Linked DNA regions of Homo sapiens: region 2 is linked to region 1. Evidence: fine-mapped expression QTL. Tissue or cell type: lung. Region 1 holds a variant in brackets; the other region holds the start of a gene. All regions are shown on one strand. Distances are from middle to middle.

Region 1 (8,106 bases):
AGGGCTGCTGTGAGGTCAGGCCGGGGCGGGAGCCTTACCGGGCACAGTCCATCACGGAGCGCAGGCGGTGGGCAATGAGCAGCACAGTGCACTGTGCAAACCAGCTCCCGAGCATGGCCTGCATCTGCAGCTCCGTGCCAGGGTCCACGGCAGCAGTAGCCTCGTCCAGGATGAGGATCTGGGTCTTCCGGAGAAGGGCACGTGCCAGACACAGGAGCTGTTTCTGGCCCACGCTGGGAACGATTGGGACAATTAGCTGGGACGTGCGTTTGTCGGCACATGGTGATGTGTGGGTGTGCCCAGAAACAGGTCCCTGAAGCAGTGCAGGAGTGAGGTGCCTGTGTTCAGGCATCCCCACACATGGGGTCTGGGGTCTGTGGTCTGCAGAACTGATAGGAAGCCTGTTCCTGCCATCTTTGAGCAGGCTGACTGTAGGCAGGTCATTCAAACCCTTTGTGCCTCAGTTTCCCCACCTGTGAAATGGCTATTTTCTTTTTTCTGTTTATGGCTCTTTTTTTCTTCTTCGTTTTTCTTTTTTTTTTTGAGACGGAGTCTTGCTCTGCCACCCAGGCTGGCGTGCAATGGCACAATCTCAGCTCGCTGCAACTTCTGCCTCCCGGTTCAAGCAGTTTTCCTGCCTCAGCCTCCCAAGTAGCTGGAATTACAGTCATGCGCCACCATGCCTGGCTTTTGTATTTTTAAAGTAGAGATGGGGTTTCACCATGTTGGTCCGACTTGTTTGAAACTCTCAGGTGATCCACCTACCTCAGCCTCCCAAAGTGCTGGGATTACAGGCGTGAGCCACTGCGCCCCGGTAGTTCTATTTCTAGTTTGTTTTTTGAGAAATCATCATACTATTTTCCATAGTGACTGTACTAATTTATATTTCCCCCAACAGCGAAAGCACAGCTTTCACTTCAGTCATGCCGTTGCAAACAAACCTACAATGACTGACTGCTGCTTCAAGAATCAAATCTACAGTCTTCCTAAGACATTCAAGGCTGGTGTCACGTGGGCCTTAAATACAGATGTGTACAACACCTGGGTGGGATTCCAGGCGTGATCCACCGTGCCTGGCCTGTTTATGGCTATGTCCAGTTCTATTTCTAGTTTCCACCTTGTGCCAAACACATTCTAAGTGCTTGTATATATTCACTCAATCCTCATAATGTCCACCAAGGTAGATATTATTGTTCTCTTCTTTTGAGAGAAGAGGACACAGATACAGAGAAGCTCAGTGGCTTGACCAAGGTCTCAAGGCTAGTGGTGGGTCCATAATTTGAACCCAAGTCCTCTGACCCCAGAGTCTGTGCTCCTAATGGATCCGTCCTCGCTGAATCGTGACGACATGGCACATAAAAGTGTGTGGGTGGCGGGGCACGGCGGCTCACACCTGTAATCCCAGCACTTTGGGAGGCTGAGGTGGGCGGATCACGAGATCAGGAGATCGAGACCATCCTGGCTAACACGGTGAAACCCTGTATGTACTAAAAATACAAAAAATTAGCCGGGCGTGGTGGCGGGCGCTTGTAGTCCCAGGTACTCAGGAGGCTGAGGCAGAAGAATGGTGTGAACCCGGGAGGCAGAGCTTGCAAGTGAGCCAAGATCGCGCCACTGCACTCCAGCCTGGGCGACAGAGCAAGACTCTGTCTCAAAAAAAAAAAAAAAAAAAAAAAGTGTGTAGGCTTGTCACAGAATAAGCCCTTGGCATGGAGTAGCACCCTTCGTGGAGGGTGGAGGAGTTGAGATTCCAGGTTGTGAGCCCAGTGAGCCCCTGACCCAGGTGGGAACTGACCCCTGGGGCCCCAGCATGGCTGTCTTGCACAGTAAGCCCTTCCATGAAACAGCATCCTTTTACATGATCAGAACCTACTATGGTCATGCAGGCGTTAGAGTGCCTGGGTCTTGTCCCAACCTCACTACTTTTAAGCTGTGTGACGTCAGGCAAGCCCCAGGCCTCCAATTCCAACTCTGTGAAATGATGTTATCAGGAGTGTGACTCAGGACTAAAATGAGTATTTACTCTTTGCTCTATGCCTGCCACTGTTTCAACAACTTTGTGCATATAATTCAATCCTTGCAAGGTAGGTAGGTGCTATTATTCCCACCTTACAGATGAGGAAACTGAGGCACACAAGATAAGTTGCCTAAGATCCTACAGCTAGTAAGTGGCAGGGCGGGGCGGGGGTGGGGGTGTGGGGTGGGGGGCCTGGATTTGAGCCCAGGCAGTCTGTCACCTGTGTATACTCTTACCCACCAAGCAACGCTGCCTCTCTAGTGCTGGAAATTATTGCCTACCACAAGCCCTTCGGACACCCTCAGGGTCAGAGGGGTTTATAAATCCAGAACACCTTAGGTTTTTTTTTGTTTTTTTTGAGACGGAGTCTTACTCTGTCACCCAGGCTGGAGTGCAGTGGCACAATCTTGGCTCACTGAAACCTCTGCCTCCCGGGTTCAAGCGATTCTCCTGTCTCAGTGTCTTAGCCTCCCACGTAACTGGGATTACAGGCGCCTGCCGCCACACCCAGCTAATTTTTGTATTTTTAGTAGAGACGGGGCTTCACCATATTGGTCAGGCTGGTCTTGAACTCCTGACCTCAGGTGATCCACCCGCCTCGGCCTCCCATAGTGCTAGGATTACAGGCATGAGCCACCGCGCCCAGCCACTTTGGTTTTTCTAAAGGCATATACCTATACACCTATGTTCATAGTGGCATTATTCAAAACGGCCAAGAGGTGGAAACAGCCTGGGTATCTACTGGCAGATAAACGGATAAGCAAAATGTGGTCTATCCATGTAGTGGAAAATTATTCGGCCTTAAAAAGGTAGAGAATCTGACACATGCTACGATGTGGATGACCCTTGAAGACATCATGCTGTGTGAAATAAGCCAGTCACAAAAGGACAGATCCTATGATTCTGCGTCTATGCAGTGTCTAGAGTAGTCACACTCAGAGAGACAGGAGAATGCTGGTGGCTGGGCGCTGGGGGAGGGGACAAGGAGAGTTAGGGTTTCATGGGTACAGAGTTGTAGTTCTGTTGTGTAACAGTGTGAATGTACCTAACACTACAGAAACTATACACTGAAAAATGGGTGAGATGGGCCCGGCGTGGCTGCTCACACCTGTAATCCCAGCACTTTGGGAGGCCTACGCAAGTTCGACTGTAGCCTGGGCAACATGGTGAAACCCTGTCTCTACAAAAAATAAAAAGATTACCTGGCCCTGGTGGCTCACACCTGTAACCCCAGCTACTCGGGAGGCTGAGGTGGGAGGAATGCTTGAGCCTGGGAGGTGGAGGTTGCAGCGAGCCTTGACCTCACCACTGCACTCTAGCCTGAATGACAGAGCCAGACCCTGTCTCCAAAGAAAAAGAAAAAAAAAAAAAAAGGTTGAGATAGTAAATTTTATGTGTATCTTTCCACACAGCTTTTTGTTGTTGAGACGAAGCCCAGGATGGAGTGCAGTGGTGCAATATCGGCTCACTGCAACCTTCGCCTCCCTGGCTCAAGCGTTCTTCCCACCTCAGCCTCCCAAGTAACTAGGACTACAGGTGCATGCCACCATACCTGGCTAATACTGTTGTCCACAGAGATAGGGTCTTGCTATGTTGCCCAGACTAGTCTCGAACTCCTGGGCTCAAGCAATCCTCCTCTCTCAGCCTCCTGAAGTGCTGGGATTACAGGCATGAGCCACTGTGCCCAGTCCACACTTGACATTTACCAAAAAAAAAAATCCTATATTATAGTCCCAGTGAGTGGTGAGGTTACCACCCGATATCAAACAATATTTTCATAGCAAAATAAATACTGAGCAAGAGCAATAAAGGCTATCAGTAGCCCTGTGTCAGTTGAGGTTGGGTTTTGCCACCAAGTAAATATAGAAGACTAACTGCTAATTTAGGGGGGAAAACCTTGGTATTCAGAGACTGTGTCAGAGCTTGGAATTGCAGATAAGAGACATGTGGTTATTAATGTAACAGAGTGATAATCCTATCGGGGGAGGCATTTCCTGAAGGCCCTTGGGGAGGGCATGGCCATCCCCTCCTCTCCCACCTGCAGGTCCCAGCCATGGTGGGACGACCATACCTCAGGTCCTCGCCTCGGTCAGCACACTTGTACTGCAGCTGGCCGGGCAGGCTGGCCACCAAGGCTTTGAGCTGCACCGTCTCCAGGGCTGCCCAGATAGCCTCGTCCGAGTGCTCCTGCAGCAGGTCGAGGTTCATCCGCAGAGAGCCAGGGAACAGGATGGGGTCCTGGCGGGGAGGGGCGGTGGGTCAGAGCC[G/A]GGTCCCACCATGCCTCCCATCTTTGCCCACCCCCTCCACCAGCCTCACCTGGGGGATGATGCTGATCCTGGAGCGCAGTGTGTGCAGCCCCACGTGGGCAATGGGGACCCCGTCGATCCAGATCCCACCCTCAGCTGCCTCCTGGAGCCGCAGCAGCCCACTGGCCAGGGAGGACTTCCCTGCCCCGGTCCTGCCAACGATGCCCACCTGCCCGGGGTTGGGAGGAAAGGCCTGCTCTGACCAGAGGGTTTGTGGGCATTTATTGGGGAGATCTTTCTGCTGTACCCGAGATCTGTCTATCCATCCCTCATTGTGTAAAGGTCTACCTTCCATCTCTCTTTCCATCTGTCTACCTTTCTATATATCCACCCATCAATCCATCCAGTCTTCCATCTGTGTTCTTCTCTATCTTTCCCTTATCCTGATATCTCTCTCCCATCTTTCTCCCCACCCTTCCTTTAGTTCCTCCATCTTTCCTCATCCTTCTATTTACACCTCTCCATCATCTCTCATCCTTTTTTCTACCCCATCCCATCCATCTGTCTGTCCGTCCATCCATCCCTTATCCTTTTTTCCACCCCATCCTGCCATCCATCCATCCATCATCCATCCTCAATCCCATCCCTCCATCTCTCTTCCACCCCATTCCATTCATCCATCCATTCATCTGTCTATCCGTCTCTCGTTTCTTCTTCCCTATTCATCCATCAATTCACTAATCCTTTCATTCATTTATTTTCTCCCATCCATCCATCCAGTCCATCCTTCCCTCATCCATCCTTCCATTCATCCTCCATCTTATCCATGTGTCCATTCTGTTATCCATCTCCCATGCTGTTATCCACCCTCCATCCTTATCTCTCTTGCTACTATTGCATCCTCAGTGTCTGACACATGGTGTGGGTTCAACATTATTTGTTTAATTAATGATGGAAACATGTGGGTCACCCCACTGTATGCCAAGTACCTGTTTAGGCACCGGAAGTATAGAAATTAAAGAGTCCTTGCTCCAGTGTGCCCATCATCCGGTCTAGGAAACAGTGCAATTGAGTAAATGTAATACAGTGTGATGAACAATGCTTTATTTATTTATTTATTTATTTATTTTTGAGATAAAGTCTTGCTCTATTGCCCAGGCTGGAGTGCAGTGGTGCGATCTCAGCTCACTGCAACCTCCACCTCCCAGGTTCAAGCAATTCTCCTGCCTCAGCCTCCCTAGTAGCTGGGACTGCAGGTGCCTGTCACCATGCTCGGCTAATTTTTGTATTTTTAGTAGACACGGGATTTCACCATGTTGGCCAGGCTGGTCTCAAACTTCTGGCCTCAAGTGATCTGCCCACCTTGGCCTCCTAAAGTGCTGGGATTACAGGTATAAGCCACAGCACCCAGCCAACAATGCTGTTTATTATCAAGGTCTGGACCTCTGGCAATTAAGGGAAGCAAGGCAGTGCTGCTCATGCTGCCTGGGATTTGACAGAGGTAATAAGAGAAGACCTCATGGAGGAAGGGATACTTGCATGGAAGCTTGAAGGATCAATAGGAGTTCAAGGAAGGGGAACACTCCAGGTAAACCACACCAAGTGGGTTTCCAAAACTAGAAGCTCATGGAGCTCACAGCACCATGTGCCCCCCTGGCCGAGAGGCAGCTGCTCCACAATGTTGGCTAAGCCCTGGCAGAGCAATGAATGAGAGGGGGAGGTTGGCAGGGCCTGGGTTGGGTAGAGCCTTGAATGCCAAGCTCAGGAATTCACACTTTACCCCAAGGGAAGCTGGAACTAGTAGAAGGTTTTGAGCAGGGGAATGACATGCAGTGTCATTCATGCTGATAAAGGTCACAGGATGGCTGGGCATGGTGGGTCATGCCTGTAGTCCCAGCACTTTGGGAGGCCGAGGGGGGTGATTGAGGTCAGAAGTTTCATAGCAGCCTGGCCAACATGGTGAAACCCTGTCTCTACTAAAAATACAAAAATTAGCCGGGTGTGGTGGCAGGTGCCTGTAATCCCAGCTACTCAGGAGGCTGAGGCAGGAGAATCACTTGAATCTGGGAGGCGGAGGTTGCAGTGATCTAAGGTCACACCACTGCACTCCAGCCTGGGCAACAGAGTGAGACTCTGTCTCAAAAAAAAAAAAAAAAAAAAATCACAGGAGAGCAGATTGGAGCTGGTGAGACAGGATCCACTGCTTTTTAGGGGACAAGGAGAGGACAGGGAGGAAGCCTCTGTAGGTTCAGAGGGAGGGAGGAAAGGGATTCAGTGAAGGGGCCTGATGAGGCATCTGTAAAATGGGATAGTACTAGCACCTCACTTAGGGGTTGTTGTGAGAGTGAAAACGCAAATAATAAAAGCATTAGTAAACATTTCTGGAGCACTTTCTATGAGCTAAGCATGTTCTATGTATTAACTCAAACTTCACAACAACTCAGAGATCAGTATTACCAGTCCCAATTTACAGATGGGAAAACTGAGACTGAGCTATGAAGTGCTTTTCCCAATGTCTCCCAGCTGAAAGCAAATATCCCATTTGTGCAAACTGGAAAATGTACCTGGAGCATTTAACACACTGCCCAGCACATATTAGGTGCTGGGTTAATGTTAAAGGAAGAAGGAAGTCACGGAGTTGCTTCCTCATCTGGGGACACCAAGGTGGATGAGGAAGTCACCAGATGGAAGCAGGTTTGGGGAAGGTGAGGAGTTCATTTTAGGGGGTAATGGGTCTGAAAGCTAGGGGACCTGAGGTGGGGACACTGTGGAGGTGGCTGGTGCCCAGGGTTTAGGGCCTTGTCCCTGGAGTCCTTTGGCCTAAACTCCATGAAGAAGACATTGTGAGAGAACCACTCACCTTCTCTCCTGCGTGGATCTTGAAGGACACGCCCTGCACAGCCAGCGGGAGCTCAGGTCGGTATCTTAGCCCAAAGTCCCGGAACTCGATCTGCCCGCCCTGAGGCCAGGGGGGCTGAGCTGCACATGTGGGCAGCCTCCAGGGAGCCTGGAGCAGGAGGGGAAACTGAGTCAGAGGAGCCTTCCTCTAAGACTTCACACAAGATGGCCCACCTCTATCAGCTTCAGTTTTCTCTTCCGCAAAATGGACGTATTTATTGCTGTTTTACAGGGTTGTTATGGGAATTCAACAAGAGAGGGCATGGACTATGTCAATGCTAAAAACAGATGGTGGTGGCTACTTTTAGTCTATTTTATTGTTATTATTAGCCACTGTTTATTATAAAATAATCTCTTTTTCTATAGTGGGAGCAGACATTTCTCTTTGTCTTTGTGAAAGGACATGACTGTGCAGTGGGAAGACCAATACTGCCTTTGCTGTTCCCGTGACCTTGAACAGATCATTCTACCCCCTTGAGTCTTGGTTTTCCAATCTGGGAAATAGGGCTAATAAGAGCAGCAGACATGTATTGAGTGTTTGCAATGGACCAGGCACTCTATTAAATCATTTCTTTGCAGGATCTCATTTGATCCTCCCAGTAAACTCAACGCTGTTATGTTACTGTTACATTAGTGCTATGCTGCTGTTCTTATCCTTTCTTCCACCCAATCCCATCCATCCATTCATCCATCCATCTCTTATCCTTTATCCACCCCATCCCACCCATCCATCCATCCATGCATCCATCCATCCATCTCCAATCCCATCCCTCCATCTCTCATTCTTCCATCCCATTCCATCCATTCATCTGTCCATCTCTCACCATTTCTTCTACCCTATTCATCAACTAATTAATTCTTCCTTGTTCTGTTACTGTAATGTTACTGTTATATTGCTAACACATTATATCATGTTGCTGTTTTGTTACCGTTGCGTTGCTATGT
Region 2 (8,106 bases), 68 kb after region 1:
CACACTGTCGAGGCCAGTGCTTCTCAATAGGTGGGTGACTTTGTCCTCCTCACCCCCAGGGACACTTGGTAATATCTGGAGACATTTTGGGTTACTGCAATTGGATGGTATGCTACTGGCACCTATGGGCAGAAGCCAGGGATGCTGTTTCACACCCTGCAGCAAACAAGACAGCCCTGTCCACCCAACAAAGAATTGTCTGGCCACAACATTACTAAAGCTGAGGCTGAGGGAAGTTGGTCTAGGCTACATGTTTTTCTCTTTACAGAGAAAATGACCCATCATGTCTCCTAATAGAGAAACGCTGCTTCCGGCCGAATGACAAGAGCTCACGCCTGTAATCCCGACACTTTGGGAGGCCAAGGCAGGTGGATCACTTGAGGTCAGGAGCTCGAGACCAGCCTGGCCAACATGGTGAAACCTCGTCTCTACTAAAAATACAAAAATTTTTAGTAGAAATTTAGTAGAAATTTTTAGTAGAAATTTAGTAGAAATTTAGAATAAGCCAGGTGTAGTGGCACACACCTGTAATCCCAGCTACACAGGAAGCAGAGGCAGGAGAAGTGCTTGAACCCGAGAGGCAGAAATTGCAGTGAGCTGAGATCATGCCACTTCATTCCAGTCTGGGCGACAGAGCAAGCCTCTCAAAAAAAAAAAAAAAAAAAAAAAAAAAAAAGCTGCTTCCCAGATTGGGCAACAGAAATACGAGTGGTGTGCAGAATGAGTGTGTAAATATAGGTGCATAGGAACATGGGGAGGGTGAATCCATGACATGAGGGGAGGTGTGCACGGAGGGGTATGTGTGCACACAGGTGTGTCTGTGCCCAGGTTGTGTGTGTGTGCGTGCATGCATGTACTTGTGCGATGTATGAATCAGTGCCTATAAGTGTGTGCATCGTGTGCAAGTGGCACGTGTGATGTGGGCCTGTAAGACAGGAAATTGTGTTGATAAGAAATGTATGGGATGATGGGTACTGACAGGTGCGGGAGTGGATTTTGTGTCTCTAGAGTGTAAGTGACTGGCTTGTGTGTGTCACTGTATAGAGAATAAGTTGTATGTGGAAACAGGAGGAGAAAGGAAGGGACCCAAGGCATGAGCCACCATTTTGGTTTCCCAGGGTGGCCCACGCCCCGACTTACCGCTCCGGAGGCCTGCTGGGCAGCGTTGGTAGCTGGCAAGACAAAGCAGAGAAGCCAGTAACCAAACAGCACTCCAGATGACTGGACTCCCTTTTTCCTCTCGGTGTGAATCAGGAACACTGCGAAGCTCTGGACGGGAAAGTCAGGGAGGCCCCTTAGGGGAGGGTGGGAGGCTGAGGGGAGCCTCTTCTCTTCCCCTTGTTCTCCACTGTGGCAGGCAAAGCAGCAGCTGGGAGGAAGCCGGGCTCCAGACTGAAGGCATCATTACCATCGTGGTGAGCCACACAGTAGGATGAATGAGGAATTCTGGGGCCTCAGGCGTTCCCTGTTGGATTTTCCAAAGAGCGACAGCCACGCTGGAGGTACACAGGACTATGAGGGCGAATCCAAGCACCTGAGGATACAGGCTTAGATAAGCTTGGGGGGCAATAAGAGAGGTCACAGCAAACTGGTAGGCGGCCCCATGTCCAACTGGGAGCTGGTTCTGCAACATCCTGGCTGATACTGAGTATACCAGGGTCACCAGCTAGCAACGTGCCAATGTGAACAATGTGTAAAGGGCATTGCAGATCACTCCTGACCTGTAACTGTCATATAAATAATGCACAGGAAGGGCTTGAGCCAACCGAGTGTTTTCCAAAATGCAGGAAGTGCTCCAATCGTGCACATATGAGATGACTGTGGGTATGGAGAAACAGCAGGAAATGAAATGTACTCACCAGGTAAAAAACTATCCTTTCTCCAAGTCATTTTTCAATCCCTGCTATGAAATCAAGGAGCAACTCTCTGTTGGGCCAGTAAGTCTCTAGGGTCTCTCTAATATATTTTGGTTTCTCTATTGAATAAAAGAAAGGAAGAAAATGAGAGAACGTGGGCACACCAGAGGGAAGGCCAGAGCTAGGTTACGTTGGAGGAACTGCTCAAAGAACCTCAGTTTAAAGCAGAAGTTGGCAAACTATCAATCATCAAAGAAAAACAAAAAGCATATGTCATGACAGGTGAAAATTACATGAAATCCAAATTTCAGTGACTACAAATAAAGTTTTATTGAAACGCAGTCGGCCGGGGGTGGTGGCTTACACCTGTAATCCCAGCACTTTGGCAGGCCAAGGCAGGCAGATCACCTGAGGTCAGGAGTTGGAGACCAGCCTGGCCAACATGGCGAAACCCTGTTTCTACTAAAAATACAAAAAAATAGCGAGGTGTGGGGGTGGGCACCTGTAATCCCAGCTACTCGGGAAGCTGAGGCAGGAGAATCACTTGAACCCAGGAGGCGGAGGTTGCAGTGAGCCGAGATCGCACCATTGCACTCCAGCCTGGGTAACAAGAGCAAAACTGCATCTCAAAAAAAAAAAACAAACAAAAAAGTAACACAGTCATGACTATTGTCTATGGTTATGACTATTGCGTTCATTCTGGAATGGCAGAGTTCAGTGTTCGGAAGGAAGATTACCTGGCTCACAAAGTCTCAAATACTGTGTACCGCTTGGCTCTTTAAGTTTGCCAACCCCTGGGTTGGTGGCGGGTGATAATGTAAAAATTAATACAATGGCAGAAGAATGAATGAACTCTGAAGAACATTCTTTGGAAGCCTACAAGAATGGAGTAGAAGAGGATGGATGAGCAGAAAGGCTCACACTTGGAATGCCAGTGTTTATTTAACACACTAAGGTAAATACATATCACATATAAAAATTGTCCTATAATACAGCCAGTGGGGGAACATAAAAATAAATGCATAACTTTTTAAAAGGTTCATCCTAATGTGGCTCTAAAATTACCTTGTGTATCCAAGAGTCTACATGGTATGTTTTGGAAAATGCCAGGTTATGGTAGCTATAAACTGTCCAGGAACATGGGAGTGTATGCGTATGTTTGCGCATGCGTGGATTTTCGGAATTACAAAATCTGTTTGGGAGAACCGTGTTCCACTGAGTTGACCTCTGTAGCCTTTCTAATATTGCTCTGTTTGATTAACAGATTCCCTTCTACACCCCGATAGGAGGAGTCTACTTTAAGACTTCACCAGGTTCCAGCCTGTCCCCTGCCTCCCCCGAACATTGCCTGGTTCCAGGCTCCCAGGGATGGCAGCTACCATCTTGGCTTTGAAGAGTGGGGACATCCGGAGGTAGCCCCGGCCATGGTGGTGGATGAAGAGGAGGTAGATGGGACCAAGGACCCAGAGGTACATGGGGGGTACCCAGACCCCTGCTGTTCTCAGGAAGCACAGGCTCAGCAGGCTGGTGGCGGCAGGTTCAGGCTCTGTCTGGTTCCAGACCTGAGGGAACACAAAGAGGACCCTTAGGATGGTACAAGGCAGGGGTCCCCAGCTCACCTGCCCAGGGGGCCAGGCAACTTTTTGGATCTTTAACATTTACACAAAAATGTACCAAGTACTCTTTGGAATACCTACTAATTCTCAATTCCTTTCATCCTGACATTAACCCTAGGTAGTTGCAATTATATTGATTTGCAGATGAAGAAGCTGAGGACCAGAGAGGTTGAGTAACTTTGCTGACTTTACCCAGCTGAGGAGTGGAAGGGCTGGGATTTGAACCCAGGGAACTGGGCCATGTGGTCTAGGAGACCTGGGCTCCATAATCATTGCTAGGCATGGACTGTCAGTTAATCCTTATAACAACTCCAGGACGCAGACAGTACTGTCTCCATTTCAGAAACCAGCAGACTGAGGCACCAGTCGGGGAACTGCCTCCCCCAGGGACACACAAATGGGAAGTGGCAAAGCTGACTCTGACCCAGGCTTATCTGACCCCAAACCTCGTTCGACTGGTGGTCTTGATGTATGATTTGTTTTTATTTTTTATTATTAATTAATTTATGTTTTAGAGACAGGGTCTCACTCTGTTGCCCAGGCTGAAGTGGCACAATCAAAGCTCAACAAAGCTTCGAATTTCCTGGGCTCAAGCAATCCTCCCACCTCGGCCTCCCAGAGTGCTGGGATTACAGGCATAAGCAGCCTCACCAGGCCTGGCTAATTTTTTTTTTTTATGTTTTGTAGAGATGGGGGTCTCTCTATGCTGGTCTCGAACTCCTGGTCTCAAGCAATCCTCCTGCCTCAGCCTCCTAGGTACTGGGATTACAGGCAAGAGCCACCGGCCCAGCTTGATCTGTTATTTTCATCTCAGCAGGTCTGCTGGTCCTATCTAACCCTAGAAGAAATTTGAAGTTTAGTGGACGTGGCCTCTTCAATTCTCTCTCCGCTGTCTTTTTACTCCTCCTGGTTTCACAACTCACCGGCTGTGCAAACTTTAACCTCTCTGTATCTCAGTTTCCTTCCCTGTAAAAGGGGGAAAACGAGACTCTACCTCTATGAGTTGTATTAAATGGATTAATAGCAGCAAAGTTCATAGCAGCATGGCACAAGGTTGGGCACAAGGCTAGGCACAGAGAAAGCCCTCAGTTCATTGCCAGTTTATTGCTTCAACTCCCTGGCCCTCGAAATGCTGGCAGTTTGCAACCCCCACCCCCACTCCATGAACTCCACTCCCTGGAGTCCTTTGCTAAGAGCAATGGAAAAAGAAACCAGAGAGGTAAGGGCTCTCCGGGGGTAGGAGGGCTTGGGGGACCCACTAGCTTTATGCAAAGAAGAGTCAAAGCCCCTAGTAGCTGGGAGGTCTGGTGGCCCCTTAAATAGAGCTGGGCTCTCGGCTGCTGGCTTGGTGAAAGAAATCCAACCCGCTGCAGTGAGGGGGCCGGAGTAAGTCTCCTCGCTTCCCGGGTCCAGGAATTTGGGGGTCTCTCCTCTCCCCAGTATCGCAGCCCGAGAGATCTGCAGCCAAACCAAGCCTGGAAAAGGAGAGTGGGGCGCGATGGGGGGCACTCACCCCCTGCCCCGCGCAGGGCTCAGCAGGCGCGGCCATCGGCGCCTTCTGTCGTCGTGGGTCCCAGCGTCTGTCTGTCGCTAAGTCTCTGGGCAGACTGCTCGGCCGCGATCCTGCCGGAGAAGAGGCGGGGCTGGGCTGGTCGGGCTGGGCTGGTCCGGCTGGGATTCGAGCTCCGGGATCGGGAGGCCCCGGGCAAGGTCCAGCTGCGCGGCGGGAGTGAGGCCACGGGAGGTGAAAACAGGCGAGGTGGGGGATGGGGGAAGAGAGGCGCTCGGGGAGCTGGGACGGGCACCGGGTTGGGGGGTCCCGGAACCCCTGAAAGTTCAGTGACACCTCCATAGTTCCCTCTTCCCCCTGCAACAAGAATCACTCCAGACTTCCTAAACACTTTGGACCCAGCAATTTCCAGGAGTTCATCCTGATGAGAGAACTGAAAGGTGTGCACACGTTAGTAACAAGGAGGCCTGGTGACCGCCTAAGCGTCCAATCGCGGGGACCACCGGGTCGAGGCCGAGAGGATGGAGACCGCGTCACAGGCACCTCGCTGCTGGAATGGAGGGTGGTGGGGAGAACTTAGAAGATTATGCAATGGGCTGGCAGGGCTATACCCAGCCGCCCTGGTAAGCAGAAACTCAAGAAACCTCTAGGGTCCTGTTTTCTGGTCGTATGATCCCAGGAGTGCACATGGGCCCCTCGGGTGTCTGAACAGAAGGGCATAGGAGGGAGGGCCGCAGCCCTGCAGTCTTACTCTGCTGGTGTAGCGGTCACCTGCCAACTCCCACCCCACCCTGCACCGCGGGCTCCTGAGTCGGCAGATTAAGCATTTTATAAATTCTATTTTAAATACGTGTTTTAAACTTGTCAGATATTTGTCTTCATTTCAGTCCCTGCGCCTCTACCTCTTGCTGTGGTCGCTTATTTAACACTGGGGGGCTACGTTCTGCTAAGTCCCAGGGAGAGACTGTTCCTAATATCCGAGGGAGATATTATTCCTAATATCACGCTGGGTGAACACCACGTGTGTACAGCCTCTGATACGATTGGTAATATCCAAGGGAGATATTATCCTAACATCCCAGTGGGTGAACACCATGTGTGTAAACGCTGTGGTATTATTAGAAATATCCAAGGGAGATATTACTCCTAATATCACAGTGGGTGTACATCCTGTGATATTATTCGTAATATCTGAAGGAGATTTTACTCCTAATATCACAGTGGGAGTACACACTGTGATATTATTTGTAATATCCGAGGGAGATTTTACTCCTAATATCACAGTAGGTGTACAACCTGTGATATTATTCATAATATGCTAGAGATATATTACTCCAAATCTCATGGTGGGTGTACACTCTGTCATAGAATTCGTGATATCCTAGGGAGTTATTACCGCTAATATCACAGTGAGAGTACACCCTGTGATATTATTCATACTATCCTAGAAAGATATTACTTTTAATATCACAGAGGGTGTACACCCTGTGATATTATTCATAATATTCTATGAAGATATAACTCCTGATATAACCGTAGGTGTATACCCTGTGATATTATTTGTTATATCCTAGGGAGATACTACACCTAATACCACAGTGGGTGTACACCCTGTGATATGATTTGTAATATCCTAGGGAGATATAACTCCTAATATCACAGAGGGAGTACACCCTGTAATATTATTCATAATATCCTAGAAAGATAATACTTTCAATATCACAGTGGGTGTACACTCTGTGATAATATTCGTAATTTCCTAGGGAGATACTACTCCTAATATCACCTTGAGTGTACACTGCGTGATATTATTCGTAATATCGTAGGGAGCTATTGCTTTTAATTTCACAGTGGGTGTATACCCTATGATATTATTCATAATATCTTAAGAAGGTAGTACTCCTAAAATCACAGTGCCTGTACACACTGTGATATTATTCATAATATTCTAGGGAGATGTTACTCCTAATCTCATAGTGGGTGTACACCTTGTGATACTATTTGTAATGTTCTAGAAAGATATTCCTTTTAATATCACAGTGGGTGTACACCCTGTGATATGATTCGAAATATTCTAGGGCGATATTACTCCTAATATCCCAGTGAATTTACACCATGCGTGTACACGCTGTGACCTCCCAGAAAGATATGACTCCTAATATCACAGTGGGGGTACACCCTGTGCTATTATTTGTAATACCCTATGGATATCATAATATCACAATGAACGTACACCATTGTGTACATGCTGTGATATTATTTGTAATATTTTTGGGTGATATTACCCCTAATGTCACAGTGCGTGTACATCTTTTGATATTATTTGTAATATTCTGTGGAGATATTGCCCCTAATATCACAGTGGGTGTATACTCTTTGATACTATTCGTAACATCCTGGAAGATATTATCCATATTGTCACGGTGGGTGTACACCCTGTGATATTATTCGTTATATTCTGGGGATATACTATTACCCCTAATATACTGTGGGTGTACCCCCTGTGATATTATTCACTATATCTTGGAGATATAATATTACCCCTAATATCACAGTGGGTGTATACTTTGTGATATTATTCATTATATCCTGAAGAGATATTATTTCCTTTAATATCACAGTGCATGTACACCTTGTGATATTATTTGTTATATCCTGGGGAGATACTACTATATTACTCCTAGTATCACAGTGGCTGTACGCCTTGTGATACTATTCATTATATCCTGGGGAGATATTATTACTCCTAATATCACAGTAAGTGTATACCCTGTGATATTATTCATAATATCCTGGGAGATATTACCCATATTGTCACAGTGGGTGTACATCCTGTAATATTATTTGTAATATCCTGGGGAGATATTATTACTCCTAATAGCACAGTGGGTGTACACCCTGTGATATTATTGGTTATATCCTGGGGAGGTATTATTATTCCTAATATCACAGTGGGTGAACATTCTGTAATATTATTCATTATATTTTGGGGAGATATTAATTCCTCTAATATCACAGTGGGTGTACACCCTGTGATATTATTCATTATATCCTGGGAAGATATTAATCCCTCTAATATCACAGTGGGTGTACACCCTGTAATATTATTCATTATATCCTGGGA

The links. PIP is the estimated chance that this variant, and not a neighbour inherited with it, causes the effect.
Region 2: ABCC6 starts here. The variant in region 1 is fine-mapped to the expression of ABCC6 in lung (TOPMed, PIP above 0.99).

What each region holds. Positions count from the first base shown.
Region 1 is chr16:16,150,540-16,158,645 of GRCh38, forward strand. ABCC6 (ATP binding cassette subfamily C member 6) reads right to left here. Exons shown (of 31, transcript NM_001171.6): 27 at 7,124-7,270; 28 at 4,334-4,492; 29 at 4,089-4,255; 30 at 39-233. Among named protein-coding and RNA genes, the nearest start is that of ABCC6, 69 kb to the right of the region's middle. RefSeq lists a silencer at 1-87. The variant G/A (reference allele first, on the strand shown) is at 4,285.
Region 2 is chr16:16,218,414-16,226,519 of GRCh38, forward strand. It overlaps ABCC6 (ATP binding cassette subfamily C member 6), which reads right to left and starts at 5,081. Exons shown (of 31, transcript NM_001171.6): 1 at 4,986-5,081; 2 at 3,236-3,418; 3 at 1,409-1,534; 4 at 1,141-1,269. The coding sequence starts at 5,021.